Regions from separate parts of the Homo sapiens genome. Here regions 1, 3 and 4 are each linked to region 2. Evidence: fine-mapped expression QTL. A gene starts in region 2. Each other region holds a variant in brackets. All regions are shown on one strand. Distances are between the middles of the regions.

The links. PIP is the estimated chance that this variant, and not a neighbour inherited with it, causes the effect.
Region 1: its variant is fine-mapped to the expression of RHOU in tibial nerve (GTEx, PIP 0.96).
Region 3: its variant is fine-mapped to the expression of RHOU in whole blood (TOPMed, PIP above 0.99).
Region 4: its variant is fine-mapped to the expression of RHOU in atrial appendage (GTEx, PIP 0.95).

Annotation. Positions count from the first base shown.
Region 1 is chr1:229,081,784-229,089,888 of GRCh38, forward strand. LINC02815 (long intergenic non-protein coding RNA 2815) reads right to left here. Exons shown (of 5, transcript NR_186727.1): 5 at 5,317-8,105. Among named protein-coding and RNA genes, the nearest start is that of LINC02815, 69 kb to the right of the region's middle. RefSeq lists an enhancer at 6,273-6,991. The variant C/T (reference allele first, on the strand shown) is at 3,625.
Region 2 is chr1:228,731,049-228,739,153 of GRCh38, forward strand. RHOU (ras homolog family member U) reads left to right here and starts at 4,431. Exons shown (of 3, transcript NM_021205.6): 1 at 4,431-4,956; 2 at 6,625-6,683. The coding sequence starts at 4,695.
Region 3 is chr1:228,974,770-228,982,874 of GRCh38, forward strand. No RefSeq gene overlaps it. Among named protein-coding and RNA genes, the nearest start is that of LINC02815, 180 kb to the right of the region's middle. RefSeq lists an enhancer at 4,520-5,126. The variant C/A (reference allele first, on the strand shown) is at 4,792.
Region 4 is chr1:228,933,427-228,941,531 of GRCh38, forward strand. The region is part of intron 2 of LOC124904539 (a long non-coding RNA gene); the gene reads right to left. Among named protein-coding and RNA genes, the nearest start is that of RHOU, 200 kb to the left of the region's middle. The variant G/A (reference allele first, on the strand shown) is at 4,580.

The DNA of each region.
Region 1 (8,105 bases), 350 kb after region 2:
TGAAATCCTAGTAGCTCAGAATGTAACTATATTTGGAGATAGGACAGTTAAAGATAAGACCTTAAAGTTAAAATGGAACTATTTAAAGAGGTAGTTAAGGTGAAATGTACCCTAACCTAATCTGCTAGTGTTTTTATAAGAAGAGGAGATTAAGACACAAGGAAAGAGACAGCAGAGATGCACATGCACAGAGAAGAAAACCATGTGAGGACACAGGGAGGAGATAGCCATATGCAAGCCAAGGAAAGGGGCCTCAGGAGAAGCTAATCCTGCCAACACGTTTTTTTCCTTTCTTGAAAGAGGGTCTCACTTTTTTCCCCCAGTTGGAGTGCAGTGGTGTGATCATGGCTCACTGGAGCCTTGAACTCCCAGGCTCAATCTATCCTCCCACCTCAGCCTCCTAACGAGCTGGGACTACAGGAGCACATCACCACGCCCAGCTAATTTTTCCATTTGTTTTTGTAGAGACAGGTCTCACTTTGTTGCCCAGGCTGGCCTCAAACTCCCGTGATCCTCCCACCTTGGCCTCCCAAAGTGCTAGGATTACAGGCATAAGCCACAGTGCCTGGCTTATCATCACCTTGATCTTGGGCTTCTAGCCTCCAGAACTGTGAAAAGATAAATTTCTGTTATTTAAGCCACCCATTTTGTGGTATTTTGTTACAGCAGCCGTAGCAAACTAAAACACTCTCTATCCATGTATGTGAAATCTCTCTCCACTTATTTAGATTTTCTTAGGTTTATTTCATCAGTTTTCTTATTTTCCTCATACAGATCTTGTACATAGTTTGTTAGATGTATACCTACATATTTCTTTCTCTTCTAGTTCTTATGTAAGTTGCATTTTGTTTTTAGTTTTAAATTTCAAGTGTTCATTGCTGGTATATTAAAAAAAACTGACTTTTGTATACTAACCTTGCATCCTGCAACCTTGCTATAATTGCTATTAGCTCCAGGAGTTTGGGGTAATTATGTCATTTGTGAACAAAGAAAATTTTGTTTCTTCCTTACCAAACTACATACCTTTTATTTCCTTTTCTTGTCATATTGCATTAACTAGGACTTCTAGTACTACTTTAAATGGGAGTGATGAGAGGGGATGTCCTTGCTTGTTCCTGATCTTAGTGGGAAAGCATCTAGTTTCTCACCATTAAATTTGATGTTAGCTCTGTATTTTTTATAGATGTTCTCCATGAAGTCGAGGAAGTTCCCCTGTATTCCTAGTTTGCTGGGAGTTGTTTTTGTTTTGTTTTATCATGAATGGATATTGGATTTTGTCAAATATTGTTCTGCATCTGTTGATATTGTCATAAGATTTTTCTTCTTTAGCCTATTGATGTATTGTATTATGTTATGAGCTAAATGTGTGTGTCCCCTCAAAATTCATAGATTGAAGCCTTACACTGGTGTGACTGTATTTGGAGATAGGGCCTCTAAGAAAGTAATTACTGTTAAATAAAATCAGAAGGGTCTCTGATCTGATAGGACTAGTGTTCCCGTAAGAAAAGACGTCAGAGAGCATGCCCTCTCTTTCTCCATGCACACACACCGAGGAATGTGAGGACATAGCAAGAAAGTGGCCACCTACAAGCCAAGAAGAGAGCCCTGACCAAAAACCCAATCTGCCAGCACATGATCTTGGACTCCTCAGGCTTCAAAGCTGTGAGAAAATAAATCTCTGTTGTTTAGGCCACCCAGTTGTGGCATTTTAGCAGCTAGACCAGACAGATTACATTAATTGACTTTCAAGTATTGAACCAGCCTTGCATACCTGGAAATATATCCCACTTGGTTGTGGTGTATAATTATCTTCATACATTGTTGAATTCAATTTGCTGATCTTTTGTTGAAGATTTCTAATTTTTACCTTTTATTCTTTTGGTTTTCGTTTGTTTGCTTGCTTTGTTTTGTTTTTGAGACAGGGTCTCACTCTGTCACTCAGGCTGCAGTGCAGTGTTGTGAACATGGCTCACTGCAGCCTTGATTTCCTGGGCTCAAGTGATCCTACCACCTCAGCCTCCTGAGTAGCTGGGACTATGGGCATGCACCACCATGCCCAGCTATTTTTTTCTATTTTCCGTAGAGACGGGGTCTCACTGTGCTGCCCAGGCTGATGTCAAACTCCTTGACCTCAAGTTATCTTCCTGTCCCAACCTCCCAAAGTGCTGGGATTACCAGAGTGAGCCACCATGCTTAGCCTGTTGGGAATTTCTGCATCTGGGTTTGTGAGAGATATTGGTTGCTAACTTTCCTTTCTGGTAATGTCTGTGTCTAGTTTTGTATTAGGATAATCCTAGCTTCACAGAATAAGTTAGGAAGTATTCCTTTTGCTTCTGTTTTCTGGAAAAGAGTGTAGAGAATTGGCAGAGTTTCTTTGTTTAATGTTTGGTAGAATTCACCAATAATCCATCTGGGCTTGGTGCTTTCTGTTATTACTGATTCAATTCCTTTAATAGATATGGACCTATTCAGATTATATATTTATTTCTGTGTAGGTTTTGTGTGCATTTTAGTAGATTGTGCCTTTCAAGGGATTGGTTCATTTCATCTAGCTTATCAAATTTGTGGGCATAGGCTTTTTCATAATATTCCTTTATTATTCTTTAAAAGTCCACGAGATTAGTGGCAGTCCTCTTTTATTTCTGATATTAATAATTTGTATCTTCTCTCTTTTTTCTTAATTAACCTGACTAGATGTTTATCAGCTTTATTCATCTTTTCAATGGACCAGCTTTTGGTTTTATTGATTTTTTCTCTAGGATATCCTATTTTAAGTTGTTTCATTTCTACATTTATTTTGATTACTTGTTTTCTTCTGCTTACTTTGATTTTAATTTGCTCTTCTTTTTTCTCATTTCTGAAGGTGGAAGCTTAGATTATTAATTTTAGATCTTTCTTCTTTCCAAATATATGCAGTTAATGCTATAAATTTCCCTCTAAGCACTGCTTTCACTGCATTCTACAAATTTTGATAGGTTGTATTTTCATTTTCACTTAGTTCAAAATATCTTTAAATTTCTCCTGAGACTTTTTCTTTGACTTCTGTGCCATTTAGAAGTGGATCGTTTTATCCAAGTAATTGGGGGTTTCTCCCACTGTCTTTGTATTACTGATTTCTAGTTTAATTGTACTGTCATCTGAGAGCAAATTTTATACAGTTTCTATTCTTTTAAACTTGTTAAGGTGCGCTTCATAAACCAGAATGCAGTCTCTTGGTGAATTCTGTGTGAGTTTAAGAAGGATGTGTATTCTGCTATTAATGGATGAAGTATTCTATAAATGTCAATTAGATGCAGTTGATTGATGCTGTTGTTCAGTTCAACTATATCTTACTGATCTTCTGCCTACTGGATCTGTCAATTACTGATAGAGGGGAGTTGAAGCTTCCAAATATAAAAGTGAATTTATCTATTTCTCCTTGGATTTTTATCAGTTTTCTCTCACACATTTTGTCTCATGTCAGTTCTTTTAGGTGCATGCACATTAAGAATTGTTATGTCTTCTTGGAAAATTGACCCTATATCATTACATAATGTCTCTCTTTATTTTGATAATTTTCCTTTCTCTGGAGTCTACTTTGTCTGAAATTAATTCGTGGGCTAGAATTTGATATTTTCCTTCCTC[C/T]ATGTTGGTTAGGCTCTGGCTAAATAGTTTCTCCTGAGGGGAAGCCTTGTTAAAAAGAACAGAATGTTCTGGTGTATTTTTAAATGGTTACTTTTCTTCTCCCTGGCCAGAAGTACAAGGAGTTTTTCTTCAGTCTTTACAGAAGTTGGTATATATCCAGTGCCTACAACCCCTTTGCATAGCAATTGGGGATTATCTATTAATACAGAAGAAGTGCAACCTCAGGGCCCATGATTCTGCTTGTCACATATGTGCACAGGAACCTTAGAGAACACTCATCACAGCACTGTGTGTAAAGAGTTTACAAATGAATGAACGACTTGTGGATAACTAACATTACCAGGGGTTTCCAGCAGCAGCAACGTGTGTTGAGCTGGAGCTACTTGTACTAACATGGGTAAATCTCAAAAACAAAATAAGTTTAAAAACCAAATTGCATATACTATACACAAAAATTAACTCAAAATGAATTAAAGACCTGAAAGTATAATATGAAAGTCATAGAAGAAAACATATGGGAAAAACTTCATGATATTGAATTTGGCAAGAATTTCTTGGAGGTAGCCCCAAAAGCAGAGGCAACAAAAGCAAAAATAGACTAATGGGATGACATCAAGCTTAAAAACTCTGCAGCAAAGGAAACAATTAACAGAGTGAAAAGACAACCTATGGAATGGGAGAAAATATTTTTAAATGATACATCTGATAAAAAGTTAATAGTCAGAATATATAAAGAATTCCTACAACTCAATAACAACAACAACAAACCCAAATAACCCTATTTAAAAATGGGCAAAGGACTTAAATAGATATTTCTCCAAAGAAAATATACAAATGGCCAACAAACACATGAAAAGATGCCCAACATCACTAATCACTAAGGAATTCAGTCAAAACCACAATGAAATATCACTTCATACCCATTGGGATGGCTAGTATAAAAACAAAAAACAGAAAATAAATTTTGGCAAGGATGTGGAAAAATTAGAACCCTTGTTCAGTGTTGATTGGAATGCAAAATGTTGTAGTCACTGTGAAAAACAGTATGGAGATTCTTCAAAAAAATAAAAATAAAACTACCATATGATCCAGCAATCCTACTTCTGGGTATGTATCCAAAAGAATTGAAAACAGGATATTTAAGAGATATTTGTACACCCATGTTTACAGCAGAATTATTCACAAAAGCCTAGAGGTGAAAGCAACGTAAATATCCATCAATGGGTGAATGGATAAAGAAGTGTGCTCTGTAAAGACAATGGAATATTATTCATCCTTAAAAAGGAAGGAAATTCAGTTGCATGTTACTCAGTGGATGAACCTTGAGGATATTATGCTATGTGAAATAAGCCAATCACAAAATACAAAAAGTGTATGATGCCACTTGTAAAAGGTGTCTAGAGTAATCAAACTCACAGGAACACAATGGTGGCTGCCAGAAGCCAGGGAAGTAGGGGTGAGGAGTTGCTTTTCAGTCGGTGCAGAGTTTCAGTCATGCAGGAGGGGAAAGGGGGCTTAGGAATCTGTTGCACAACACTTTAAGTGTGGTTAACAATATTGTACTCTACAAGTAGAAATTGTTGGGAGGGTGAATTTTAGGTTATGTGGTTTTTTGCCCTAATTTTCTAAAATAAAAAGCAAGTTGCAGAATCATATGTACAGTAAAAAGTCAAAGGATTTTAAAACACAAAACAATGTCACATAGAGTTTATTTATAGATGCATACATATATAGTAGAAATATTAAAGCAAGCATGAGAAAAATAAATAGAAATCGATGTTGGCAATGACCTCTGGGAAGAGAGTTGTATGGTATGGGTCAGGATTCTAGAGGAATAGTCATGTTTTATTTTTATTTCTTAAGATCTGGAGTGAAGTGGGTAAATTTTTAAAAGATTTGTTTTCAAGATTTTTTTATTTTTCCATTTGTTTGAAAAACCTGATCATTTTAAATAAAATCCTGGAGGCTCCCTCCTGCTCCCGACCCCTGACCATCCCGGTCACCTCCCTGCAGCCAGGACCAGCAGGGCAGGCAGTGCTGGAACCTTCTGCTGCTGTCAGAGTAGCCTCCACATGCTGGCATGTGCTTGTGATTATTGGAACTCATTCCTGGCTTTATTTATGCCACAGACAAAAATAATTCTCCCTTCCTGGGAGACATGTCATGGCTCCAGAATGTCTTGGGAGGAGAGAGCCAGAGGGTGGGACTCTTGGGGCCACACGCGTGCCTCTGCTCATCCAGACTATACCCAGGGCCAAGGGGGTGATAGACAGATGCCAGGCTCCTATTCCTTGAGAGCGAGGTCTGAGCTGGGATAATCCTTAGAGTCCAAATCAACCCGAAATATACATCAACCCTGTCCATCTCTGTTTCCCCCAAGGACCCCAGGTTAGTTGAGGTAACTCCAGGGCAAGCCCAAATCATACCAGGGTATAATTTAGGGGAGTGCAGGCTTCAGGCCAGACCAATCCCTGATGTTCCCTTTTTCCTCAGCATTCCCTGCAACAGAGCCTCACCTACCTTCGGGGCACTGCTGTGACATTTGGGGTTTCAAGAAAGGCTCAGAGTCAGCCTCACTTCAGGGAGAACCCAGGCCTGGCCTGAACCCCACGCTTCCCCTGACTCCAGGACCTAGCCTGACCCACCTTCGAGATTTCATCTCGGGCCAGCCCCTCCCACGCCGGGGTCCGGAGTCAGTGTGGGCTGTAACCCCCGGGGTCAGGAGTCAATGTGGGCTGTACCCCCTGGGGTCAGGAGTCAGCGTGGGCTGTACCCCCTGGGGTCAGGAGTCAGCGTGGGCTGTACCCCCTGGGGTCAGGAGTCAGTGTGGGCTGTATCCCGGTGGCATCCACCTGACTACTGTGCAGGCGGCTGGCGGCAGGTCCCGGACACATTGGGACGTGGTGTAGTTTTCATGCTGTGGAAGGCACCCTCCTTTCCCTGGCAGAACCAAAGGCCTGGCTAAGCACCTGTGGGGCTGGTCTGCACTGCTGTACTCCTCCCCACTCCCCTTCCCTCTGATACTGTGGGAGGGTCACCCCAATTCTCTTGGTCTTTCCTGGTGAACTTTCTGTTGGGCCTTAGGCACCTGCAGGTTGGAATGATAGGCTCTGGTCCACTTTCCAGCCCCAGGTGAAAAAGCTCAGGTCAACCTTTTCCCCTTCATTTTTCTTTCTCCCAGGGCTCTGCATGGACCCCTTTACACACAGCTCTGCCGCACAGGCTGCTGCCAGGTATAGAATCACTGCCGGCTCAGATACCAGGATGTGAAAAAAATCAGGACGAGCCTTAGAAAAGTAAGAGGATGGTGATTAAACACATAAATAAATAAAGCAATTAGGAGGAGGATGCATAACCAAAAAGCAAGGTAAGGAGAAAGAGGAGGGGACTTCAGGCAAGGCCTCTCCAGTTACTGTCATTAGAGCAGAAATCTGAGAGAGGTGAGGGGCCAGCCAGCGGGAAGGGCACCCCAGGTGGGGAACGACAGGTGTGAGGTTCTGAGGACAGGGGTGGGGCTGGGCTGGGCAAGGCCAAGGAGGGAGAGAGAGGCCAGAGCTTTGAGCACAAAAGGAATGAGATCCTTGTCACTCACAGGGCCAATGTTGGAAGCAGGACCCCAAGTAGGAAGCCACTTCGAAAGTCCAGGGGCGGTGACCAGGTTTGGGCAGTTTTCTTTACTGTGATGGAAGAGAACTGAGGGAAAGGTGGACGGGGACAGGGACTGCTGGGGACACTTAAATAATTTACTTTGATATTATTTATGCAAACTTTTAAAACAAACAGTATAATATATTTCTTATATATGATCATTCCCATAAACAATATATTTAAAATATGAAAAGCACAGAATAGAGCGAACATATCAGTGGTTGCCGTTGAGGAGGGGGAGAGAGGAGGGGAATAGCATTGAGGAATGGTTAAAGGGGGACATAAACTTTATGTGTCATGGTTTTATGCCACAGAGATATGAAGCAAAAATCACAAGTTATTATATTAGTGTCTGTTTTTCCGGGTGGTGACTGCTGCAGTATTGGCTACCATATTCTCTGTACTGTCTTTGTCTGGATTTTTTTTTCCCAATGGAGAATTGGGAGAGCAATGCCTTGCACTGCTGGGTGGATTCGATCCCCAGGCACTTCCTGACTCTCTTCATGCTTCTCAAAATCTCCCTGCCATGCAGGCAGGGCCAGCTCTGCCTCACCCTTTGGGTTTTGTGAGTGACTTGGCCAAGTCTACGGCTGGTAAATCTGGGCTGAGACTGGAACCAGGTTTCCCGGCTCCACAGTTCAGAGCTCTGTCCTGTGTCCTGGAGTCTCTAAGGTCCAGGAGACACCTCGACCTCCTGGAGGAAGATGCTGCCACCTAAAACAGGTTTCCAGGGCAACCAGCTTCCCCAGCTGCTTGGAAAGAGGAGGGATATCCAGGGCTCCCTGGTGGGCTTGTCATGCCCAGCAAGTCAGAGCCCAGTGGAGCCAATGAGT
Region 2 (8,105 bases):
ATTAATTATTTGCTAGTGGAACAGTTAAAATAACTTGATGGAAAAAATCCTAGAAAATGTATTAATACTGTGCTAGGGGAAGAGTTTTGTGAACTGGGGATCCTCCCTTTTAGGGGATTATGAGCAAGGGTAGGTGTTGTATAATCAGTAGATGATTTCACTAGATAAGGGCTGTGATAGGGACAAGCACAAATATATCCACATAAGGGGTCAGGGAACATTTCTGGACTTGGATGAAACACCAATTTGTTTGGTGTGGAGGTCTGCTTTCCTACGTTGCCTGTAGAAGATTCTTATGAATAGGGCAAGCGTTAGTTCTGAGCATTTTAGATAAGGCTGTAGGGGACTGATTCAGTTGAGCCCAGAAAGATGGGCCCAAATGAGTGGGTGTGGGACAGTTCAACATAAAAAGGGGTAAAGCAAGAGAGGGAGGCTATGGAACACAAAAACGAACAGATGGCCAGATGGAGAAGCAAAGCCAAGTTTTGTCGGGCCTGAAGCTTATCACATTTTGAGGACTTCATTAAGAAAAAGAACACAAAATTAAGTATAGAAAATTAGGCAGAAAAATAAACATCCTTGGAGGAGGTGACACCTAAGCGGAGAAAGAGCAAGTTCATGGAAGAAGGAGGAAGGGGTTACAGACCTGTAGTTCGAGGAGAAGACACCTTCTCTGACATGTTGTTGGGGACCCAGGGGTGGGTTGCTGGAAGTCCTGGAGGAGGTGTTGGGGGTAGGTAGGGGGGATGAATGCTCACAGCTGGGCTGGAGGGCCTCAGAGAGACAAGATCTTAAGAACGGAAATTCTGCACCCAGTTTTCAGAATTTTCTAGGCCCACTGCACAATGAAGGCGTTGTACTGTCTTGGTGAAAAACAAATGGGAATACATGAGGTGTAATGCATTTTTTGTCTTAAAACTGAGCAAAGACATGGTTTTCTATTAATAGCTGCAAGAAGTGGTCAAATTTCCTTCATTCATTCTAAAAATATTTTATAAAAGCATAAAAATACAACTGTCCATGTTTTGAGAGTCCATGTTTTACATTCTTCTCCTTTTCTTTCTTTCTTTTTTGCAGAACCGTCAAGTTCAAAACATGTTTTCCTTTCACTTACGTATTTACCACTGCTTAAGTATTTATTAAGCACCTACTACTTGCCCCACGTGCTTCTAAGTGTGGGATATAGGAATGAGCAACATTAAGTTTCTGATTTCATGGAGCTTGTAAGAGGAGACAGACAATAAGCAAATAAACAAACAAATATATCATACAACTTGAACCCACACACCTTGGAGGGCTTCTTGTAGCATTAGTTCCAAGCATTTTAGATAAGGCTGTAGGGGACTGATTAAGTCGAGCCCAGAAACATGGACCCAAATGAGTGGGTGCGGGACAGTTCAACGTAAAAAGGGGTAAAGTAAAGGCATTCTGTAAAGGGGTAAAGTGGTAGGCATTCTGTCATCTCTCTGCTTTTGGACTTGGATGAAATACCGAACTGTTTGGCGTGGGGTCTGATTTCCTATGTTGCCTACAGAAGAGTCTCATGAATAGGGCAAACATTAGTTCCCGGCATTTTAGATAAGGATGCAGGGAGCTGACTAAGTTGTGTCCAGAAAAACGGGCCCAAATGAGTGGGCGTGGGATGATATTCAGCATGAGAAGGGGAAAAGCAAGAGGGGGACGCACAGGACACAAAAACTGACAGCTGGCCAGATGGAGGGGCAAAGCCAAGTTTTGTAGGGCCTGAGGCTTATCACATTTGTGAGACTTCATTAAGAAAAAAAAATACAAAATTAAGAATAGAAAATTAGATACAAAAACAAATGTTTAAAGTGAGAAATGCATCACAATAAGTTACAAATTTTAAAAGGCTAACAAACACCATAAACTTAAACAAAATACATAAGACATGACATTTTAATAAACTGCTTGACACACTTCTATGACATTATTTTCATTTTTCAGTTGCATACCCTTTGATCACTTCTTCAGTTTTGTAAGATATTTTCTATAAGAACAATAGGAAGTTACTTCACACACAGGTGAACTTGCTTTTTGTTGTACTACTACAGCCTCATGTCCTTACAAACATGGGAATTCAGATCATTCATTTCATGTGATTTTTCTCCAAAAATGTATGATGCATTTGTAAGTGTATCTGCTGCATTTAGAGTACAGGTACATTTCTGACAGCAGACAACTTCTGTTTTGATCAGGTTTAGTAGAGAGAACCAAACCTTCTCTAACAATGTTGTGTTTTCTTCTGTTTGTTTCTTTTTGAGACAGTGTCTCACTCTCGCCCAGGCTAGAGTATATTGGTTGATCAAGGGCTCACTGGAGCCTCGACTTCCCAGGCTCAAGTGATCCTCCTACCTCAGCCTCTGGAGTATTTGGATTACAGGTGTGAGTCACCACACCTGGCTAATTTTTTTATTTTTGGTAGAGACAGGGTTTCGCCATGTTGGCCAAGCTGGTCTCGAACTCGTGGCCTCAACCGGTCTGACTGCTTCAGCCCCCCAAAGTGTTGGGATTACAGGCGTGAGCCACCGCACCAGCCGATATTAGGTGCTTTATGATGGAAAGAATTGCCAGACTAGCTTCCAGCTCTGCCCATCTCAAGCTCTGCTACTCTTGCTACTGGAACCCTTCTAGTGTTGGGGAAAGTAAGACAGTTAAGGGCACCAATGTGACTCTCACAGAGGGTCATAGGTATGTCAGTGGTAGCCATTCCTATACCTGGATGGCTAGCAACAACATATCTACATAGGAGAACTGTAAACCACATAAATATATCCTGTCATCACAGCCAGGGCGAGGGAGAGGCAAGTCAGGTACCTGAGGCTCAAAACTTAACATTGGCACTTGCCTGACCCTGAGAGTAAGGGCCCTCTAAATTTGTTGTTTTTTGATATTGCCTCTGAATGCTCAATTTGTCATAAATTTTGCATCCTTGACATCCCCCTTATCTCACCTTCATCCTGATTCTGTATCCCATTACACCCAAACAACCTGTTTGGGTCTCCCCAACTTCACTTTCTTTGGCTGATCCCCAAAATCTTCATGGCCTCTTCAAAGTCACTCAATATGAGGGTAAGTTACAGTTTAAAAAGACAGTGAACATAACTGGTGGTGATTAAAATACTTTTTTTTTTTTCAAAATTTACAGAAACATATTACCACGTGTACACATTGCTAGGTCTTCCAATGTGAAAGTGTCCTTTGCAAGTCAGGGGTCCTGGATTCAAGCTTCTAACTTCTTGATAAATCCATCTCTGCATTCTGACCATGGCCATACGTTCAAGATTACGTTTATCATACTGACTTATTTTTGCCTCCAGGATTTTGGTTAGAAGCTCAGGCTCTGGGGCTAGACTATTTGGGTTTGGATCCTGGCATTGCCACTTACTAGCTTGTGGAATCCCAAAACGTTACTTAATATCTCTGTGCCTCAGGTGTTCTCATCTGTAAGTAATGTTAAGATTAAAAGAATTAGTTCTTGAAGAGTGCTTACAACAGTATCTGACACATTATGAAAGTTCAGTATTTGTTATTGTTATTTTTACTACCACTAGTATCAATGTGTATTAATAATATGTGGCCCTTCTCACACCACGCTGTACACCCCCAGGACTCTTGGTATTCTGACTTGGCTAAGAGGCGTCCTTTTTCTGAATAGACTGTTGACCACATGTAGAAGGAAGGCAGAGAGAGAAATGAATCAAAGGGAAACGGAATATTTTTTCAGACATATTAATGTCTCCGAATTACCTTTAAGTAAATGAAGGAATTGGGGGTATAAAAAAATTTCTGGAGCATACATGTATAAAGGTTCACGGCATGCCGAAAGACAAAGTCAAAGGAGCATTCACAATGGAGCTGGCATCCTTTTGCTTCAAAATGAGAAAAAATCACACGATCAGCTGCAGTTAGACTTAAGGAAAAAAGCTGTCTGTTAATTCAATCTCATTCGCAGGACAGGCCTCCAGGACACTTCATTTTTCCCCCTGGGTGGAGCCGTGGCCAGCCGGGGGCTCCACGGAGTGAATAGGAGGCGGCTCAGGCTTCCTGGCTCGCGTGGGCGCCAGAAAGCGGAACCTCCCGGGCCAGTCGCGCGGTGGTCACCCTCTTGGGAGCTGGGGAGGAGGCTGCGGAGGCTGGCCCGGCTCCTTCGGGCGTCGCTTCCCGGACCGGGTGCGCGGGGTCCCCCGGAACGTGTGTTCCAGGTCCTCCCGCGCCAGTGTTCGCAGTCCCCGCCTGGTCGCGGCGGCGCCTCGGGCGCGGGTGCAGGCGCGCGGCGCGCAGGCGGGGGGCGCTGTGGTCTTGGCGCGGGGACCGAGCCGCTCGGCCAGACCCGCCTCTTTTCCCTCCCCGCCAGCCCGCCCGCCTGCCCGCCCCCCACGCGTCGTGTCGCCGGGAAGCCGGGCGGAGACAGAGCGCTTGGGATCCACGGCGCTCGGACCGCTGTCCTCCAACAGCGCAGGGCAGAGCGGCTGGCGCCGCCGGAGCGCGGAGCCACGACCCTCCCTGGCCGCCTTTGTCTACTGGCCGTGCGGCCCGGAACCGCCACTCTCCAGGGCCGGGGACGCGCCCGCAGCTGTCGGTGACAGCTCCTCCCTACCGCAACCCTCCGGGGCGGAGGGGCGGTCGGGCCGGGCCCTGCTAGCCCGCGACCGCAAGCCCGCGCTCGCGGATCGATGCCCCCGCAGCAGGGGGACCCCGCGTTCCCCGACCGCTGCGAGGCGCCTCCGGTGCCGCCGCGTCGGGAGCGCGGTGGACGCGGGGGACGCGGGCCTGGGGAGCCGGGGGGCCGGGGGCGTGCGGGGGGTGCCGAGGGGCGCGGCGTCAAGTGCGTGCTGGTCGGCGACGGCGCGGTGGGCAAGACGAGCCTGGTGGTGAGCTACACCACCAACGGCTACCCCACCGAGTACATCCCTACTGCCTTCGACAACTTCTCCGGTGAGCTGGCCGGGGGGCCGGGGCCGGGGGCGCGTGGCCGCGGTCCACCCAGGGGAAGGAAGGTGGCGCGAGGGTCGCGAGGTTCCCAAGGGGGCTGCAGGGCCCCGGGCGCGGCTCCAGCTGGGAAGCCGGACAAATGAGGAGTGCAGGACGTTTCCTGAGTCTCAGGGACCGGGCAAGCGCGGAGCTAACACGAAAGGACCACGGCGGAGTGGGCTTGGAGAGAGGAGGGCGGAGCGGCAGTCAGAGCCTTGCCAAAAAAAAAAAAAAAAAAAATCTCACAATTTAAGCAACAGATAAGTAGGAGTGAAACAGGTTGAGTTCAGGGTGCCCGGTCAGTTTGTTGCATAGAGCAAAGTTTCCTGAGGGCGACGTCGCTGGCGCCGCTGCAGAGTTTCAATCAGAAGGTGACGCGCAGGTGCCTTTACCTGAGCGTCGCTCCTTTGCTTTTAGGCGGCTCAGCTCACAAGGGGCGTCTCCGCTTTAAAGAGCCGCGGAGACGCCGGGAAAACACTTGATTTAGTGAAAAAGCGCGAGCGGCCCTCGTGAAGGCTTAGGTTTGGATGAAACCTGAAGAGTAAACACCATTTCTTTCTTCTGAGCCCCACCACCTTCCCTGCCCACATGGGCTCGGATTCTGATTGTTGGTATCTTTTCAGGATCCCTTTAAGCTACTTAAAGCTCCTATGTACCGGGTGCGATGCCATTTCCCTTGGTAGATACAAAGAGAAAGGAATTCTCTATCTTGCTATTCAGGTCTTTTTGAAATTTAAGAAAAAGTTAAAATTCACAGAAACTAGTATGAAACACTTAACTGTCTTGCTTCTTTAAAAAAAAATTGCTTCTCTGACCTTCCTTTCATCCCAAAGGTACCTTAGAGAAATGGGTGCTGTACTGGTGGGTTCCCACCGCAGGGTATTGTTTCTTCCCCTCCCCCCACCCCACCCCTGCAGCTGACTAGTATAAATATTTAGAAACAATTAGAAAGTTGTGTAGAAAGAGACAAAACTGACTGCTTAATTAAAATAGAAACCTCCACAACATGTCCTGCTGCAGGCCTCTCCACACTCCCCGAGTCCCCGGATCCCAGTGGAAAGGGGGCCATGGCTTTCTTTTTTCTTTTTTAATCCTCCTTTTGACCTGACATAGAGATAAGGAGTGCCCTCATTTCTTAAACAGGACAATGCGGGCAGCCTGTGTTTGCACATGTTCTCAAAACACACTAGAATTGTATGATAAACCCTGAAGTTGGGGAACCTTTCCCAAGGGAAAACAGAATTATTTGTGAGGTTTTCCACTGATTTAAAACTGCAGGGTTGCTTCCCATTTACCCCCAGTGTTGTTTTTAGGTCCTTTGAAACAAGTGTGACAGGAAAATAAATCTTCCAGGACTGGGAGAAAAGCATAGGCCTTTTTAGGGTCACCATCAAAGCGTTCAGGGATTTGCTGCCTGGTTCACGGTAATGGAGTGACTTGCCAGCCGTGGGTTTGTATACAAAAATGCCTCCACAGGGCCTCCTTGTTTTTGGCTAGTCTTTAATTCATTAGAGGACCTAAAATAGGAGCAAAGGGGTTTGGAGTGAGAATGATAGTGAAAGCTAAAACTATTAGTATTCCGAAAGGGGTTAAAAGACACCTCCTGATTGTCATTTTGGTTTTGTTTTTAAGCGGTGGTGTCTGTGGATGGGCGGCCCGTGAGACTCCAACTCTGTGACACTGCCGGACAGGTCAGTATCACGTTACAGCTCAGTGCTGGGAAAGGAAACAGCCTTTTAAAGATTTCCAAATAACCTTTGATTCCCTCAGTCAGTAACTGGGTCATTCTAAAGCCTCATGAAGTGGACCCACCCCTGCTGTTGGCCCTTCTCTGAGGGTGGGCAGGGGCCAGGTTATTGGCCGGCAGGAAGCAGAGGAAGATACCTCCAAACTAATAAAGCAGGGTTTGGCCCAGCTCTGCGTAACCAGGCAAGGGAGGAAGCAGTGTCAAGAACAGCTCTTGTAGGAGTTTCTATTACTTACTCCCTGGTTTTTATGAAAAAATTTCAGTGATGCTTTGTCATCATTTCCCAAACTAAGTTAGTGATGTCTTATAATCGTTTTATTAAAGGCCAGTGAGTCAGATATTGAAGAAATTTGCTCAAGAAAAAGATGGAATTTACATCAGTAAGGGTTAATATTTCCCTTCCTGAGCTATGGTTTGACTCGCTAGGACCAGCCCCATCACTTGAAGCACAGATACATTTGTCAGAGCAGTCCTAAGCTGGAGGGATGAACTAACTGGGCTTATTCTATCCAAACTGTGAACGCTGGTTCTTGTCTCGAGGGCTGGGCCCTTGGAGGAAATAGCCAGGGAGTGTAGGGTTCCCTCTTTGTGTTCCCCAGAAGAAGCCCCCATTGGTGGGTACTCGAGTCATTGAAGTCAGGCTGTGCCTTGTGAACACCCAGGGGTACTTGATTTTGGCAAAGTGATAGTTAATGAACTTGTCTCTCTAGTATGTTCTAGAGTTCAGCAAAGTTCCGGGGGTACTTTGTAGGCAGGTGAAAGTGCCCCCTTCACTTTCTGAGGTGCCATCACATGACTATCTGTGTTTATGAAGGCACTGGCTTTCCACTGCCCCCCAGAGCCTCATCTACGCCAGAGCTTCCAAGTTGCTCACCTACTCTGGGACAGCAGATTCAGAGCTAAGGACAGATCTTATTTTTTAAACCTGAAGATGACATAAGACCGTGGAGCCTTGATCTCCAAGGAACACCGGGCTGGTGCAGGCCATAGCTTGGGAGCACTTCAGCTTGGAAAAACCAAGCACTGTCCGTATTGTATTGTCTGTAGAAAACAAAAATCAGGCTGGGTGTGGTGGCTCATGCTCTTTGGGAGGCTGAGGTGGGAGGATTGCATGAGGCCAGGAATTTGAGACCAGCCTGGGTAGCATAGCAAGACATCATCTCTACAAAATAAAAAAATTAGCCTGGTGTGGTGGCACTGTCTGTAGTCCCAGCCACCAGCCACTCAGGAGGCTGAGGTGAGAGGATCGCTTGAACCCAGGAGTTTGAGGCTGTAGTGAGCTATGATGGTGCCACTGCACTCCAGCCTGGGCGACAGAGCAAGATCCCATCTCTTGGGGGTAAAAAAAAAGAAAAATCAAAGAATA
Region 3 (8,105 bases), 240 kb after region 2:
CGGTGCTGAAGACAAGCCCAGGGAGCCTCACACCCACGACAGCCAGAGATGAGAGGAGGGAAAGGCTCTTCAGGGAGCAGGAGCGTGGGAAAAGGTGTGGCCCAAGAGGGGAAGCAGCCCACTCTGGAAGGCATTGACTTTGGGGTTCAGTTTGCTCTCTCTGCTCCTGCGTGACTTTGGGCTGTCACTTCTTAGAATGTTAGTGTTCCCATCTGTACGATGGGGCAACTCATGTTGTGCTGTTAGAGTTAAATGAGATAGTGCAGACCCTCCTGAAGAATGAAAAGAATGAGATAGTGCAGACCCTCCTGAAGAATGAAAAGAAAAGAAAAGAAAGGAAGAAAAAAAAAAGAAAAGAAGAGAGGCTGCCCCATAAACCCCAGTGGTCTTGGCCAGCTGACACATGGCCGTCACTGAGCAGAGAGAATCGACAAGAAGGAAAGAGACACCAGGGAAAGAGCCCAGTGGGGAATGAAAGGCGTCCATGACGAGATGCTTTAGAAGACACAGAAAGGCAAGCCCAGGCCTCTTCTGCCTAACAAAAGCTATGGCACACCATACCTTGGCCAGGGAGTTAGCTCTCCTGACTTCCTGCCCTCCCTTGGGCCTGGGCTCTGCTCCCTGCCTTCCCTGGCCTCAGCTTCCAGCCCAGTCCAAGAGCACAGGACTGGAAGGGGCTGAACCACTGTCATCTGAGCCCCCATGTTCCTGAGGCCCCAGGGCGCTAGTTCTATAGTAGTCCGACATGTACATGGCTCCAAGCCCTGCCTAGGCTCGGAAGCCTCTGTCCTTTTTCAGAGCTCTGGGCTTCCTGCCTATGCTCCCTTCCTTATGCCCCATTCCAGCCAGGGGGAACCAAATGCTGGAGACAGCGGAGGGCCAGGGATGGAGACAGTGTGCCCCGCTGTGCTCTTGGAGGCCTGCATTCATCTGCACAGGGAGCACTGAGGGCCCTGCCTCCCACCTGCCCCTCCCCACCTCCTTGTCCCTGCCGCCTCCCCTTCCCTCTCTTTGGCCCACTGCACACAGCACACACCAAACCTGATTTTCATGTCCAAAAGCCTCCTGTACTGCTCATGGCCTAGTTCCATTTCTGGGTTTCATTAGTTCCCTGTCACCCATGTGGGGAAAGGAGAGCTGCAGACCATCATGCCGGTCATTTACTGGGCAGGCAGGAGATGCTTTGAGAGATGAATATATGTTCATCTGATGAGATTAAATATATATATATATATTTTTGTGAGACAGAGTCTCACTCTGTCGCCAGGCTAGAGTGCAGTGGCGTGATCTCGGCTCACTGTAACCTCTGCCTCCCAGGTTCAAGTGATTCTCCTGCCTCAGCCTCCCAAGTAGCTGGAACTACAGGCGCCCGCACCATGCCCAGCTAATTTTTGTATTTTTAGTAGAGACGGGTTTTCACCATGTTGGGCAGGATGGTCCGATCTCTTTACCTCGTGATCTGCCCGCCTCGGCCTCCCAATAAATACATTATTATCTCATTCATTCATTCATTCACTCATTCACTCATTCGTTCCAAATGCCTTTTCGTTGCTTTGCCTGGTTCTGGGTGCCATGACAGAGACTTGTCCAGGATTCTTTAGGGCTGAGAGCCCTAAGTTGCTCCCGTGTTAAAGACATAGACAGCACCCAAAACGTGGAGTTCAGAGATGAGTAACCTGCCCAGGTTGAAGTGACACTCTGAAAGATGCCCTCATGGAATTTATTCAGAGCTCGAGACCTGGCTTTCCGGTAGCAGTTTGGTTCTCTGCAGGTGGCATGCAGTGCTGGGCTTGTGGAGAGTTTCTCTGAAGCTCCTGGGGGACTCCTGTCTATTCCCACAGACTCTCCTCTCCCAGCTGGGCAGCATCTGGTTGTCCCTGTGGTGTCTTGTGGTGTGGTCCTGAAGACATGGCCCCGATGGAGAGTTGTTCATACCACAGTCCAAGCTCTATTAATAAAACACTGCTCAGACGTACTGTCATTGAAGACCATCAATAAGTGATTTCTCTAAACCTGCCACACAGTTACTGGCACCATCTTCCCAAACACAGACCAGTCCTGTGACTGCCCCTGACATCCTGAGATGGTTAGGATGAAGAAGACAGACATGCATGTGGCCTGCAAATTGAGGCTAGGGTGGAAGCCCATGTGTGTGTATTATGATGTAGTGTGTGTGTGTGACGGCGTGCAGTATATGTATAGTCTCAGAAGAGTCATCTCACCCCTTGGTCTCAGGGTCGCCATCCATGTCTGTGATTCTTCAAACCCAGGTATTTTTATTTTTATATTTAAATGCTAATCAGAAGCATAGGTCACATTTCACACAGAAGAATCTGAATCCCACTTCTGAGCCCCGCTGCTTATTCCTCTGTGATACCTGGCACCAAGAAATGGTGTTCCCTGTTTCCGACAGGCAGCTCTAACACCTACCTACTGGCTTAGGTGCTTTTTGTTTCTAATTGAATTGCCACTGGAAAACCCACGCCCAAGCTTGTGATCTAAATCTGTTTTGTTTTCTTCGTTTCTGTCCTTTTCTGAAAGGCTGTGGATTTTCCGTGTAAATTACACCTTTTTCTTTTTAAGCTGATTCCTTTTAGGGCTGTGATGACAGGATCGCCTCCTTACTCCTTAAGATCATTCCACTGTCCCCTGGATTTCTGGTCCGCAGGGCTGGGGGAGGAGAGGAGAAGGGAGAGGAAACGGGGAGGGAGTGCTGGCCCCACCTGCTCCTGCCTGGTTCTTCACCCACTCCACACCCACATCTGCTCTCTTCCTGGCCTTCATCTAAAGGAGCCCGCAAGGAAGAGTGTGGCGAACATTCATTCTTGACTGTAACGGATAAGGAGACTTTATCTGCAAACGTACAGAGGTTTTATATAAGGGTCAAGGCCTCAATTTAAAAGAAAATATCTCTAGAGATTTTCAGGCCTTGAAAGCTTTGTATGTGGGGAAGGTATGTTTGTGTGTGTGTGCTATGGTGTGTTGTGTGTGTGTGTGTATGTTAGGGTATGGATGTATATGTGTATTATGTGGAATGTGTGTGTTATGGTGAGAGGTATGTGCCTATGTGTTATGGGAAGGTGTGTGTGTGCTGTGGTGGGGGTATGCGTGTGTGTATGTGTTGTGGTATGGGGGGGGTGTATGTAATGTGTTGGGCATGAGGTGTGTGTTAAGATGTGAAGTGTGTATTAGAATGTGGAGTGTGTGTCTTATAATGTGCGTGTTATGGTGTGGGATATGTACTGTGGTGTGGGGTGTGTATTTTGTTTGTGTGTGTGATGGTGTGTGTTTTTTGGGGTGGGGTGTGGGATGTGTGTTATGCCGTGGGGAGTGTGTGTGTTATGGTGTGCAGTGTGGTGTATGGGTATGGTGTAGGGTGCGTGTGTGTTGGTGGGGTGGGTCAGGGTGGGAGATGAAGGTAGTAGGAAGAAGGTTTTCTTTAGCCCTGGAAATCAAAGCATCTTCGTTCATTAAACATTCATTGTGCACTTATGTGCCAGGAGTGAAGTATAAACACTGGCGATTTAGGAATGAAATCCTACCCTCATTTTGTGCCCAATTAGTAAGACCATTAGAGCCTCTTGTGACATTTAGGTTTTTTGTTTGTTTGTTTTAAATTTACATGTTAATTGCTTTACTTGGAAACAATTCTGGAATTCTGCTTTCTGGCATCAAGAGAGCGCTTAGAAGTTCTTCCTAAAGACACTTACAAGGTCCTTCATTCAATCAACAATCATGCACTACAAGCCACTGAATGCCCAAGTGTGCCCTAGTCTGCACATAGCCTATATGCTACGTGCAGCAGGCAACAAGACAAATGGGAGGTAGCTGTGCTACCCTCAGAACTAACAGGAATGTGGATGGCCCCAGGGAAGCTCACTGGCCAGCCCTGCTCTCTGCTTCCTGTCCCCAGACAATCTGTGTTCCCAAAGCTTGCTTCCATCCCTTGCTAAGCAGCTAGCTGTCAAATCTCCATGTCCTCCACTCTTTCCCCGAGTAAGGAAAGCTCTTCCAGGGACCCTGGAAAAGCATGTCCCAGCCAGCAGCCCGCCTTCTCTCTGCTCAGTGTCTTCCAGGTTGTTTGGCCTCACTTGTGCCTCGGCCGCTTTTGCTCTGCCCTGATTTGCTGACGCAGCGTGTCAGGAGTGAGTCTGGCCCAATGCCTAATCTCAGCCAAATGTTTGACTCCGGCTCAGTTCCCAAAGGTTCCCTGGAGGGAAAGCAGAGTAACAAGTGAGACCCATCAAGGCATTTTCTCTGGAGGGAAGCTTGTGGCGACCTTCAGGTGCGGTACAACACCACACAGCCTCTGGGTTCCACCCAGAGCTAGCTGAGAAGTGACCATCTCGGGGACACTTTGCATTTCCAGATGGTGACTGTAGTGGCCACCTTCCAAACTCACTGCTATGAAGCACCAGCTTGTCAGCCTCTGGACTCACCCCTAGCAGAGCTTCCGCCTTTCCTGAGCCCAGTGGGGTCAGACACCTGGCAAAGGAAGGAAAAAAGGGCGCAGGTGTGTGTCTGCCAGGGGGCTGCACAGCGTGGATTCCAGGATGCTGTTCTGCTCCTTGTGCAGGAGTTGAGTCGGGGATGGGTAGGTAGAGGGCTGGGGCAGAAGTGAGGGGTGCCGATGCTTAGTGGAGGGACCAGGTGCCAGGCACCACTCTGTGCCACACCACCCACCGCAGCACGCAGTGGAGTTTGGGTCTTCAGCTTTGTAGATACCCAAATGGGAGGGTTCTGCTTTTGCATCCTCCCTCGTGCAGCACCAGGTCAGTGCGCTGATGAGGC[C/A]AGTCGGGGCTGGGGCCCCCTCCTGCAGGGGAAGTGGAGGAAGGGACAGTTAGTGTATGGGAAGATGGGTTGCAGCCCAGTGGGGGAAGGGACTGGAAGTTGTTGGAGCAGAAGAAGTTGAGAGGAATCAGCACTACTCTCCCTAGCTATCAATTTAACTCTTTCATTGATACGTTAACTCACATACTTATCCAACAAGCATCTGCTGAAGCCAGACACATTGTAGGCACTGAGGGAAAATGCCAGCCCTCTAGATCAGGGCTTTCAACTTTTAAAATCATAATCCACAATATACCGTAAGACATAGCTTTTACGTGGTGATCCAGCGCACATACAACTATTCACACACAGAGACACATGCAGACACACACACATCCACACAGACACACACGCATTCACAGAGACACATAATACACAGACACACACATTCACACACACACTCACACAGACCCACACACAAACACACATTTGCACACACCCATTCACACAGAGACATATACAGACACACAGAAACACACATTTGCACAGACAGAAGAAACAAAAGTTCTACAAAACAAGCTGGTCCATACCATGCGTGACGCATCTTGATATGTTCTCTTCTTTCATGCTGATCACCACACACTATGGGCCCTTCAGCATTCTGAAGAATGCTGCTCAAGCCAACAGTTTCATCAGGATGAGAACCATGTGCACAGATATTTACAGCTCTAGGTTCTGCAGTAGAGGTTTCTCCTGAGCTGGGAACTGGAGCAGGGAGGCTGGGAGGGGCCACCTGGCTCAGCTGGAGCAAGTGATGAAGGGCGACCCAGGCCATCTGACAGAGGAGGTAGAGCTGGGTGCCGCAAGCCAGCTGGAGGTCTGGGGAAAGGCACCCAGTTATGCGTGGAGGGAAGACTTGGCCCAGAGGTTCCTTCGGATCTTTACTACTTAATTCTTAGAAAGCCCAGTGCTTCTCGGGTCCCCAAGGCCTCAGCACGGGATTCCAGTCTCCTGTGGAATGTGTGTTATTTTGGCTGTGTTTAGATAGAATGAACTGTTCACATAAGTATCATTAAATTATGCATAATAGACATCACATATCAGCCCTCTAGCTGATATTGAGCTATACAGTCATGCACTGCATAAAGATGTTTTGTCAATGACAGGCCACATGTATGACAGTGGTCTCATAAGATTATAATGAAGCTGAAAGATTCCTCTTGCCTAGTGACGTCACAGTGGTCATAACATTGTAGTTCAATGCATGACTCCCATGTTTGGGCGATGTTGGTGTAAACAAACCTACTGTGCTGCCAGTTACATAAAAGCACAGCACATGCAAGTGTGTACAGTACATAATACTTGATAATGATAATAAATGGCGACATTCCTCCCTTGTGTATTTACTATATGCTATAATTTGGATGTTTGTCTCCCCAAACCTCATGTTGAAATTTGATCCCCAATGTTGAGGCCCAATAGGAGGTGTCTGGGTCATGGGGGAGGATCCCTCACGAATGGCTTGGTGCCCTCCTTGCAGTAATGAGTGTTTCTCATTCTATTCCTTCTGTTGAGGGCTGGTTGTTAGAAAGAGTCTGGTACCTTCCCCGTCTCTCTCTTGCTTCCTCTCTCACCAGGTAGTCTGCCCGTGCTGGTGCCCCTTCACCTTCCACCATGATTGGAAACAGCCAGAAGCTCAGCCGATGCCAGCACTGCACTTCTTATGCAGCCTGCAGAACAGACAGCCAAATAAACCTCTTTAAAAAAGCAAATTACCCAGCCTCAGGTATTACCTTATAGCAACACAAATTAATGAAGACACTATCTCATTTTTTTATGATTATTTTAAAGTGTACTCCTTTTTCTTACAAAAAAATATTAAGCATAAAACAGCTTCTGGCAGGTGCTTCAGGAGACATCCAGAAGAAGGCATCTTCATCATGTGATATGACAGTTCCATGCGTGTTATTACCCTGAAGACTTCCCAGTGGCATGAGATGTGGTGATGAAAGACAGTGATATTGATGATTCTGACCCTGTGTAGGCCTAGGCTAATGTGTGTGTTTATGTTTTAGTTTTTAACAAAAAAGTTTAAAAAGAAAGAAAAATAAAAAATTAAAATTTTTGACTGGGCACAGTTCTCACACCCATAATCCCAGCACTTTGGGAGGCCAAGGCAGGAGGATAGCTTGAGGCCAGGAGTTTGAGACTAGCCTGGGCAATATAGGAAGACCTCATCTCTACAAAAAAAAAAAACAGCTAGGTGTGGTGGCATGCAACTGTAGTCCCAGCTACTCGGGAGGTTGACGTGGGAGGATCACTTGAGCGCAGGAGTTCGAGGCTGCAATGAGCTGTCATCGTGCCCCTGCACTCCAGCCTGGGCGACAGAACCAGACCCCATCTCTTTAAAAAAATGTAAATAAAAAAGTTTATCAAATAGGAATATAAAGAAAGAAGATATTTTTGTACCACTGTACAATGTGTTAGTGTTTTAAGCTAAGTGCTATTAAAAAAGAGAAAAACAAATTTTAATTAAAAATTTTATAAAGGCTCAGCATGGTGGCTCATGCCTGTAATCCCAGCACTTTGGAAGGCCGAGGTGGGCAGATTACCTGAGGTTGGGAGTTCCCGACCAGCCTGACCAACATGCTGAAACCCCGTCTCTACTAAAAATACAAAAATTAGCCGGGCGTGGTGGCAGGCGCCTGTAATCCCAGCTGCTCAGGAAGCTGAGGCACGAGAATCGCTTGAACCTGGGAGGTGGAGGTTGTAGTGAGCTGAGATCAGGCCACTGCACTCCAGCCTGGGCAACAGAGTGAGATTCTGTCTTAAAAAAGAAAAAGTTTATAAAGTGTGTAAGTTATAGTAAGCTAAGATTAATTTATTATTCAAGAAAGAAAAACATTTTAAAGTACATTTATAGTAGCCCTAGTGTCTAGAGTTTTTAAAGTCTGCCGTAGGGTATAGTAGTGTCCTAGGCCCTCACATGCACTCACCGCTCACTCACTGACTCACCCAGAGCAACTTCCAGTCCTGCAAGCTCCATTCACAGTAAGTGCTCTCTACAGGTGACCATTTTTTATCTTTTGTATTGTATTTTTACTGTCCCTTTTCTGTGTTGAGATATGTTTAGAAACACAAATACTTACCCTTGTGTTACAACCGCCTGCAGTATTCAGGTCAGTAACATGCTGCACAGGTTTGGGGCCTTGGAGCAATCGGCTATACCACGCAGCCTAGGTGTGCAGAAGGCTACACCATCTGGGTTTGCGTAAGTATACTCTGCGATGTTTGCACCACCACAAAATTGCCTAATGACACATTTCTCAGAGCAT
Region 4 (8,105 bases), 200 kb after region 2:
GGTCATATCTACAGGTGCTTGGGGTTAGAACAGCTTTTGGGCAGACACAGTTCAATCCATAACAGCCCTTCAGAATCACCACCATCAACTCAGTGCTTATTCAAGAGCCAGGGTGCAACATTGAATGCTGTTGGGCTGAACCATCTGCCCCAGAGACCCCAGGTCATGCAGGGCAGTCTCTACTGCATATTCCAAAGGTGTTCCTGGCCAGTCTGTTGCTGCTGATTCAATCACATGATTTACCATTTAAACCTCAGACTGGACTGATTTTGAAGGTGCGTGGAGAATTCAGTGGAGGGATCTCCTAAAGAAGTCAGGCTGCCAGGGAGTTCCTAGCCCTTAGGAGAAAGATACTTGGCAATTCCAGGAGGTTGAAAAGCTCTCCCTCTATCCTTGTTTATGAACTTTCACTCCCACCATTCCCTCACTCCACCTGGAGCACTCCTCTCCACCCCCTTTCTCCCTGTGGCCCACTCCAATCTCTTTCAACACCCAGAGCTCACCCTGCCTTCCCTTTTCTTTCCACGTTTACAAACTGGAAGTGCCGTTGAGTCTTCACTGGACTCTGGACCTCTTGCATGGAATGCTTACTTTCACTCCTGTCTTCCAGCCCTTCCTGAATCCCAGCCTACTGGAGAATGGGGTTGGAGTCTTCTTCAAGGACCTTTTCTCCCCAGACGCCCTGCAATGCCTGGCAGGGTGCTTTATGTGCAGAAGGGCTACATATCCTGGAAAGTGGGCTTGAAGCTTCAGGTGGAGCCCTGGAATTGATTGTGCCATTCCAGGAAACTTCCCACAAGCAGCCCAAGACCCTGATTGTCTACAGAAAATCATACAGACACCTTAATCCAGAGTTCTTTTTACCTTCAGGACTACTGCCAAGGTGGGCCTCCTGTGGGAGAAAAGGCTTCTGTCAAAATAGCTCCAAGTGTCCTGGTTCCACCTGAAACCTCCATTGCCACATTGCAGTGACGGGCCTGTCATTTGCAAAGTGCAGGCCACCAAAACTAGTTTCTGGCAGCAAATTGGCATGTACATATAACAGTTAGGTCTAAGGGCTCTGCAGACAGGATATTTATGAGTGGCGCCTTCACCACACTTTAAAGAAAATGGTCTAGTTGAAAAAATGATATAGACACATTCTCCCAAAGTTACTGACATTGACAGTCTTTCATGCCACTACTTGCTCTTCCTCCTCTGCTGGGTGTCCCCTCCACTTAGCCTGGCAGACTCCTCAGCCTTTAAGAACCATTGCAACCATAAAAATAATGAAATCATGTCCTTTGCAGCAACATGGATGCAGCTGCAGGCCATTATCCTACGCGAATTAACGTAGGAACAGAAAATCAAATACCGCCATTCTCACAAGTGGGAACTAAACATTGCGTACTCATGGATATAAAGATGGGAATAGACACTAGGGACTACTAGAGGGGGCAGAAAGGGAGGGAGGAGAGAAGGGTTGAACAAACTACTGGGTACTGTTTTCACTACCTGGCTGACAGGATCATTCGTATCCCAAACCTCAGCATCATGCAATATGCCCACCATGTAAACAAGCCTACACATGCACCACCCCCCCCCCGAATCTAAAGTAAAGTTGTAATTACAAAATAAATCAATAAATAAGTTAATAAATGAAAGGACCATCACATTGTTTTTCCTACAAGCAGCCTTCCCTGGTCCCCTCACAAGCACATCCTCTCCCTCAACGCTAGTCAAGGAACTCTTTCCACCAATGGGTTCCTGCAGCACTTTGTGAGGACTCAGTTAACACACTGTGGGGCTGCTTTTTCTGGCTTTCTTTCTGTGTCGCCACCAGCTTGAGGACAGAACACTGCTTTACTTCTGTCCCTGCCTCCCTGGGCAGGTTCTGGTGGTAAGGGCTGTTTTGTTTACTTTAAATCACCCCAGGCCTCTCTTGCCAAAGGTCAAGATTCAGTAGTCATATTCTATTAAAGTACAGACAGGACTTTGGACCAAAGGCAGAGATGTCACAGTGATCAGTGCCCACCAAGAGGACAACACTCCAGGCTCAGATGAGTCACAGCCAGCCACGCCTGAGGGCTGTGAGGAGGCAGACCTGGACCACCATGGACCAAAGGTCAGCCTAAAGCGAACTCACTTGCAAAGACAGGCAGATGACAAGGTCAAGCAAATGACCGGAAGTGGCTCTAGAGTAGTGGTCCCCAAGGGCCAAGCCATTTTACTATTGCCAAAATGCCCTTTATTTGAATAACTGCAGGTGACTGCAGTAGGGACAATTGTCTATTTTAATACCAGTCTTTGGAAAAATAGAAAACCGGCCACCCCGTGAAGTGTACAAGACTGAAAGCCCTGCTGCAGAGGAGGCACTTCTCATCGACTTACCGGCTGCCTCTTCCCACTGCAGTACTGATGAGGGAGGTAGCTAGCCAGGCATGAGCAGGGCAGGAGGGGCTCTCCCAACACACACACCAGGAATGTCAGACAACCATCAGGTGATGATCAGGTTGTTGTTAACTGTCTCTCTAAAATAATAATTGGGCACAGCCAGCACCAGGGAAAGGCAGTCTCCCAATAAACAGAAAACACCTGAAGCTGGTGATCAGCTGCTTCCCGATAAGGTTGCAGGGGATTGGGTGAGTGGGCTCAAGCATGCGCACTAAGAGGCAAAATGGAGGCGTTTAGCTGGCATATGACCTTCCTCTAGGAATGCCAGATTGGTAAGGGAAGAACGCCTCAAGTGAGCATGTGTACAACTCCAGTAAACACACTGTGCATGCCCCGCTCTCAAGCACCGTTACTGCGCATGGGAACAGCCCACCCGAACAGCCCACCCCAAGGGAAGAATCAGAGGAGAAGTAATGCAAGACCCTGGAAGCGTGCCAACATATAAACCCCAAATCAAAGGTCAAACCCTGCACTCGACCTCACAAGTTGCCTGCTTGGCTGTCTTCCAAGTGTACTTTACTTCCTTTCACTTCTGTTCTAAAACTTGCCTTGGTCTTTTCTTCTGCCTTATGCCCCTCAGTCGAATTTTTTCTTCTGAGGAGGCAAGAATGGAGGTTGCTGCAGACCTGCGCAAGTTGCCTCTACTAATGACATGTCACCAGAGCGTGTGAGCAGGGTGCTGGGCTGGGCTCTGGCCACCCCAAGTGCTCTAGGACAGCCCCTGCCTGCAAGGACTTACAGCTAAATTGGGACATGGGAACAGATGTAGACCTGTGGGCCCAATATAGGGTGCTGGGTGCCCCTCTGAAAGTGCGGCCCCAACAACACATCCTCGGGTCAAGGCACACAAGGCCTCTGGGTCCCCACTTCCACTCCACCAGGCAGATTCTACTTTTTTTTTTTTTTTAATGTACTGGGGCTCTGCTCATGGTTTATTTTAAAGAAAAGTTTCTGCTGCTTTAAAAAAAAAAATTGAAAACCCTGAAAACTGTCCCTCTGGCCTGAGCTCATTTCCTGGGTGAGGAAACAGAGGCCCCGAGAAGCCTGAGGACTGTCCAGCATCCCATGGCTGGGTGGCTGGTAGATGGCCAGCCCGGGCAGAGCCTGGTCTCTCGGTGATTTTCACTGTCTCTCTCCATTTGTGTCATATCTGTGTCCTCTCCATTTGCAGCAGGGACTTACACCTCCTTTTCACCTGCACCAATGCCAGGATGGAGATTTGCTTATGCCCCTTGGCCCTGCAGGCAGCCCAGCGACTCACAAAGTCTCAGGACCCTACTGCAGGGGTCCCCAACCCCCAGGGCCACAGACCTGTGCCAGTCCCCAACCACCCTGGGCATGCCCTGCAGAGGTACCAAGCCCGGGGCTGGAAGGGCGGGGATGAAGATTATGGATGCCATCTGAATCTTTTCAAATTCAACACATTTTTTTGGACACCAAAGCACTTTTTGTACATTTAAAAAAAATTACTCTAAACACTAAACCTGGAAGTTGTTTTCTGAAGAAGGTGAGGGGAGAGCACCTCCCCCAGGCAACCTAGATCCCTCGCATGCACAGTTCCCAACACGGAGTCTTGTGGAAGGGAGCGCTCAGTAAGATGTCATTTAGCTTAAAGACTGTGGATGCCTGAGCATGCCGCGTTTCCCGCAGCCGTGCTTCTTGCTTGGTGCTCAGTCTTGGCAAAGTCATCTCCGGCCCTACGTTCTCAGGTGTGAACGGTGGAGTCAGGGGTGCTGAGGGTCATGCTCACTCACCAACTACCCTGCACCAGCACCCTCCCCCCTGCACTGGTTTTCTGTGCTCTCGTTTGGTGTCCCCAAAATCTTGAGGCCTGTAGGATTATCACCACTACACAGAAGAGGAAACCGAGGGTTAGAGAGGTGGTCTGAATGTCTAAGAAGGGAGATCCAGGATTGGAACCCAGATTTGTACAACTCCAAAGCTCTCTTGTGACCTGTGCCGCCTCCCAAGGGGTGAGCAATCGTGCCTCCCTTTCCTCTGCTCAGCCACCCTGCAGCTCACACAGCTGCAGTAATGACTGCTCTCGAGAGAGCTGCCCCACCCAGAGGGGTTTAAGGCAGAGAAGAGCGGCCTGCAGCCTAGTTTCTCTCAGTGTGCCTTACAGCCAAAGCCAAAGACTGAGGCC[G/A]ACTCCCAGGACAGGGCCGCTACCCTGGCCTCAACACCACAAATGACTGGACGCAGCTGCTGGCAGAAAAAGCCGCACTCCAGGCATTTAGTACCTAACCGAAGAAATCCAAAGATTCTTATCTGTGCCTTGCTTCTCAACTGCAGAGGTTCTTCCCTTTTGTCCTAACACACTGGGAGGGAACTCTGCACTGATGACAAGTAACCATGAACGTGATTCCTTTCCCTCCTGCGGTGGTCATCTTCAGCAACTCTAGCCGTGAAGCCAGCCTGCCTGTCTCTTTCTTTGCTTGTGTTGGGTCATATTACTGAAGAAAGAATAATAGCAACACTGTTACCCGCCTGTGTACCAGTCTTTGTTCACGGGAGGTTTTAGGATCTCTATGACACACGCAGGCAGAGCATGCCACCGTCACTTAGGAGGGGAAGCCAGAGGTCTTGGAAGTCACACACTAGCAGGGAAGAGACCTAGGTTTTCCCATGGCTCACTGCAGCCTCCCTGAACTCTTTTTCCACAGATGCTAGGCTGACACTCCCTTGTCCCCCTCTAGAGCTCTGTGAACAGGAAGAGGTTGTCTTCTAGCTGTGTAGAGGCTGGGGGAACAGCCCACAGTGCAAGCCACGACTACCTGCTCTGAAGTGGAGGGGCTGTGGAGCAGACAGCAGACTTCTCCCAGCTGAGCAGAGCTGGGCAAAACAGATCGATCTAAACCGCCCTTAGCGGATGTTCTCATTTCCCTGCTGCCCTAAAAGTGGTGTCCGCCTGAGGTGAACACTATAAATAACTGTTCACAGGCGGGTTGTTAAGGACTCTATGGCCTGTGTTGGCAGAGACAGATTCCGGGAAGTCAGTGACTTGGTCACTTCCTACTTAAAACGCAGGGCACCAAGGAGCCTATTTTGGGCTAAATGCAAAAGCCTGGGAATCAAAGAAGAAACGTTAGAGGAGAGACCGACCTCTTGCTTTTAGCCACAGTTTGGAAAAGTTTTTTGTTGTTCTCAATAGTTCGATGGAAAGTGGTAAAAATGCTTTAATTAATTATTAACCTTGGTATTTTTCTTCATAGTTCTCAACATGCTTCACACACCTTTCCTTCTTTGAGCCTCAAAGCAACACTGTGAGTAATCTTATTGTTGTGAACCCATTTTACAGGTGAGAAGACAGAGGCAATAAACATAAGGGCTGGGCCTCACACCTGGATCTGCTGCTCCCTAGCCCCTAGTTATTCCTTCGCCTCACACCCAAGGCCATGATCTCACTAAAAAGAAACACCTTTAAGAGCAGGCACCCCTGCCTGATTCAGTCAGCAGTAAGCCATCAGCAGATCTTGCCCAGTTATAGCCTGGTCCACCTGTTTGTAATAAGCATAGTGAGAAGGACAGAATCACAGCTAGGTGGTTGGCAGGTTGAGTTGAGACTGACCACAGGGTGTGTTTGGTTTCTGGATGGGGCTGGGGTCCTTCTGAGCGTGAGACAATAGATGACACTCAGCCACAGGAGGCTGGGCCCAGCAGGGCCTCCGGCCTCAAAGCAGCGGGGTAGCAGCTCTGAAGTCAGAAGTTGAGGCTGCAGTCTTGAGGCAGAATTTCTTCTGTGGGACACCTCAGTTTTTGCTCTTAGGGGGATCAACGGAATGAGGCCCATCCACATGATCAGGGGCAATCTCTTGAAAATCAGCTTATTGTACATGTGACCCACACCACAAATACCTCCACAGCAACGTCCACATTAGTGTTTATTAAATAACCGGGTCCTATAGCCTAGCCAAGCTGATGCATGAAACTCACCATCACATCCTGTATCCATCTACAGCTTTCTAGGGCACTGTGGTAGCCCAGGTGAGGCGTTGTGCTCTAAACTCAATTCTCTGGAACAAAACTGCTGGGCCACTTTTTTGTTAGTTCCTGTATCTCTCCTCTGATGTGCACAATTGTGGCTCAGGATTATGAAGTTCCAGAGCAGAGGACAGGGAAGGAAAGAGGGAGCAAGTGCCTGGGAGGAGCAGTAGCCGGCTCTGCCACTCAAGTGTGTGCTTTTCCCCCAACCCACACCTGTCACTGAGGCAGCCGTCCCTGCTAATGGATGTGACTATGAAAGTATCGTATCCCAGTTCATCCAGAGACCAAATGGGGCCGCGTAAAAGAGCCACAGTTTTGCCTAAGTGAGATTGCAGCAGACACGAAGGAGAGCCAAGGCACTGGACAAGGACACAGGTCAGGCAGAAGCACAGGAACAAAACTGTTGGTCCCTGGTCGGGGTCCCCCAACTTCTCTTGCAAGCAAATCTACATATAAATCCACATTTTCTCATGACTATGGTTCAGTTGATGGTCAGCTTACAAGTAACACCTGGACATGGCAGTTTAGGGAGAGAAGGTTAGGAGGCCTAATCCTGTGATTTCTGGGGAAAAATGTTCTGTTGGAGGGGAACCCAATGTGCAGCCTCATGATAGAGTCCTGGGGAGATGGTTGATTTGTTAGATTCAGCCCCCAGAGGCTTGCCTTGGAGTCTCTCAGGGCTGACAGGACTAAGGGGGTCGCTAGTCAAGACAGGCCAGGGCACAGGCTCCTGGTGACGCATCTGTACTGGGTCTGCATTCTGAAAACAGCCTTGCTGGCCACTGGGCCATATGGACCTTGAGAGGGTCCCAAAGTCCATGAAATGGGGGGCATGGTGGAGATGGGAAGGCTGCATCCCTCGTCCCACTGGGTCCCCTGAGCCTCAGCGCCCTCCCTCCCTTGCTGGGGACAGCACTCTGTGGCTGCTGCTGGGCAGGGTGGGGCTTTGTCACCTGCTGAGTCCCCTCCATTGTCTCAGCGGACTCTGAGACTTTTCTTCAGGCTGGGCTTTTTCTGACTACTGGGGTGGTGGGGAGCAAGGCTGCTGTGCTACCTCATCCTATTGCCGACCCCCAGCGGGCCTCCCCTCTTTACCCAAGAGATAGCTTTTCCCTCATATCCCCACAAAATGCACACCTCTGCACTTTGAGGAGAATTCCAATGTGAAGTATGAGCTACAGGGTTGGAGGGCGTAATCTCAACTCCGTTACTGCAACTGTCCCCATAGTGTTGACAAATTGTATGCCGGGTTCTGGACAGAAATATCATTGTAATGAAGCATTACTCAGCGTGCACTTCTGCCCACTTCCTTGTTGCTGAAAGCCGTGCAGCACTGGATTCTGACCACTTACATCCCCGTTGTTCCTATAGACAGGATTTCTGGCATTAGGGTCCTAAGGCTGCTTAAGAATTAATTTGCATCTGCATTGTTCCCATAGACAGGATCTCTGACATAAAGATCACTTAATATGCTTTTCAGAACAGTGGATCAGAGTGAGAATACAGCTTCTTCATCTCGCCCTGCCCCAGGACTTCACCCTGCACTCATCAACCAATCAAGGATCTCCACACCTTGGCCCACTTCAAAACCTTTAAAAACTCTTACCCTAAACTCCTCAGGAAAATGGATTTGGGGTTCCTTCCCATCTCATTTGGTGACCCTACCTCTTTCTCTGCTGCAACCCAGT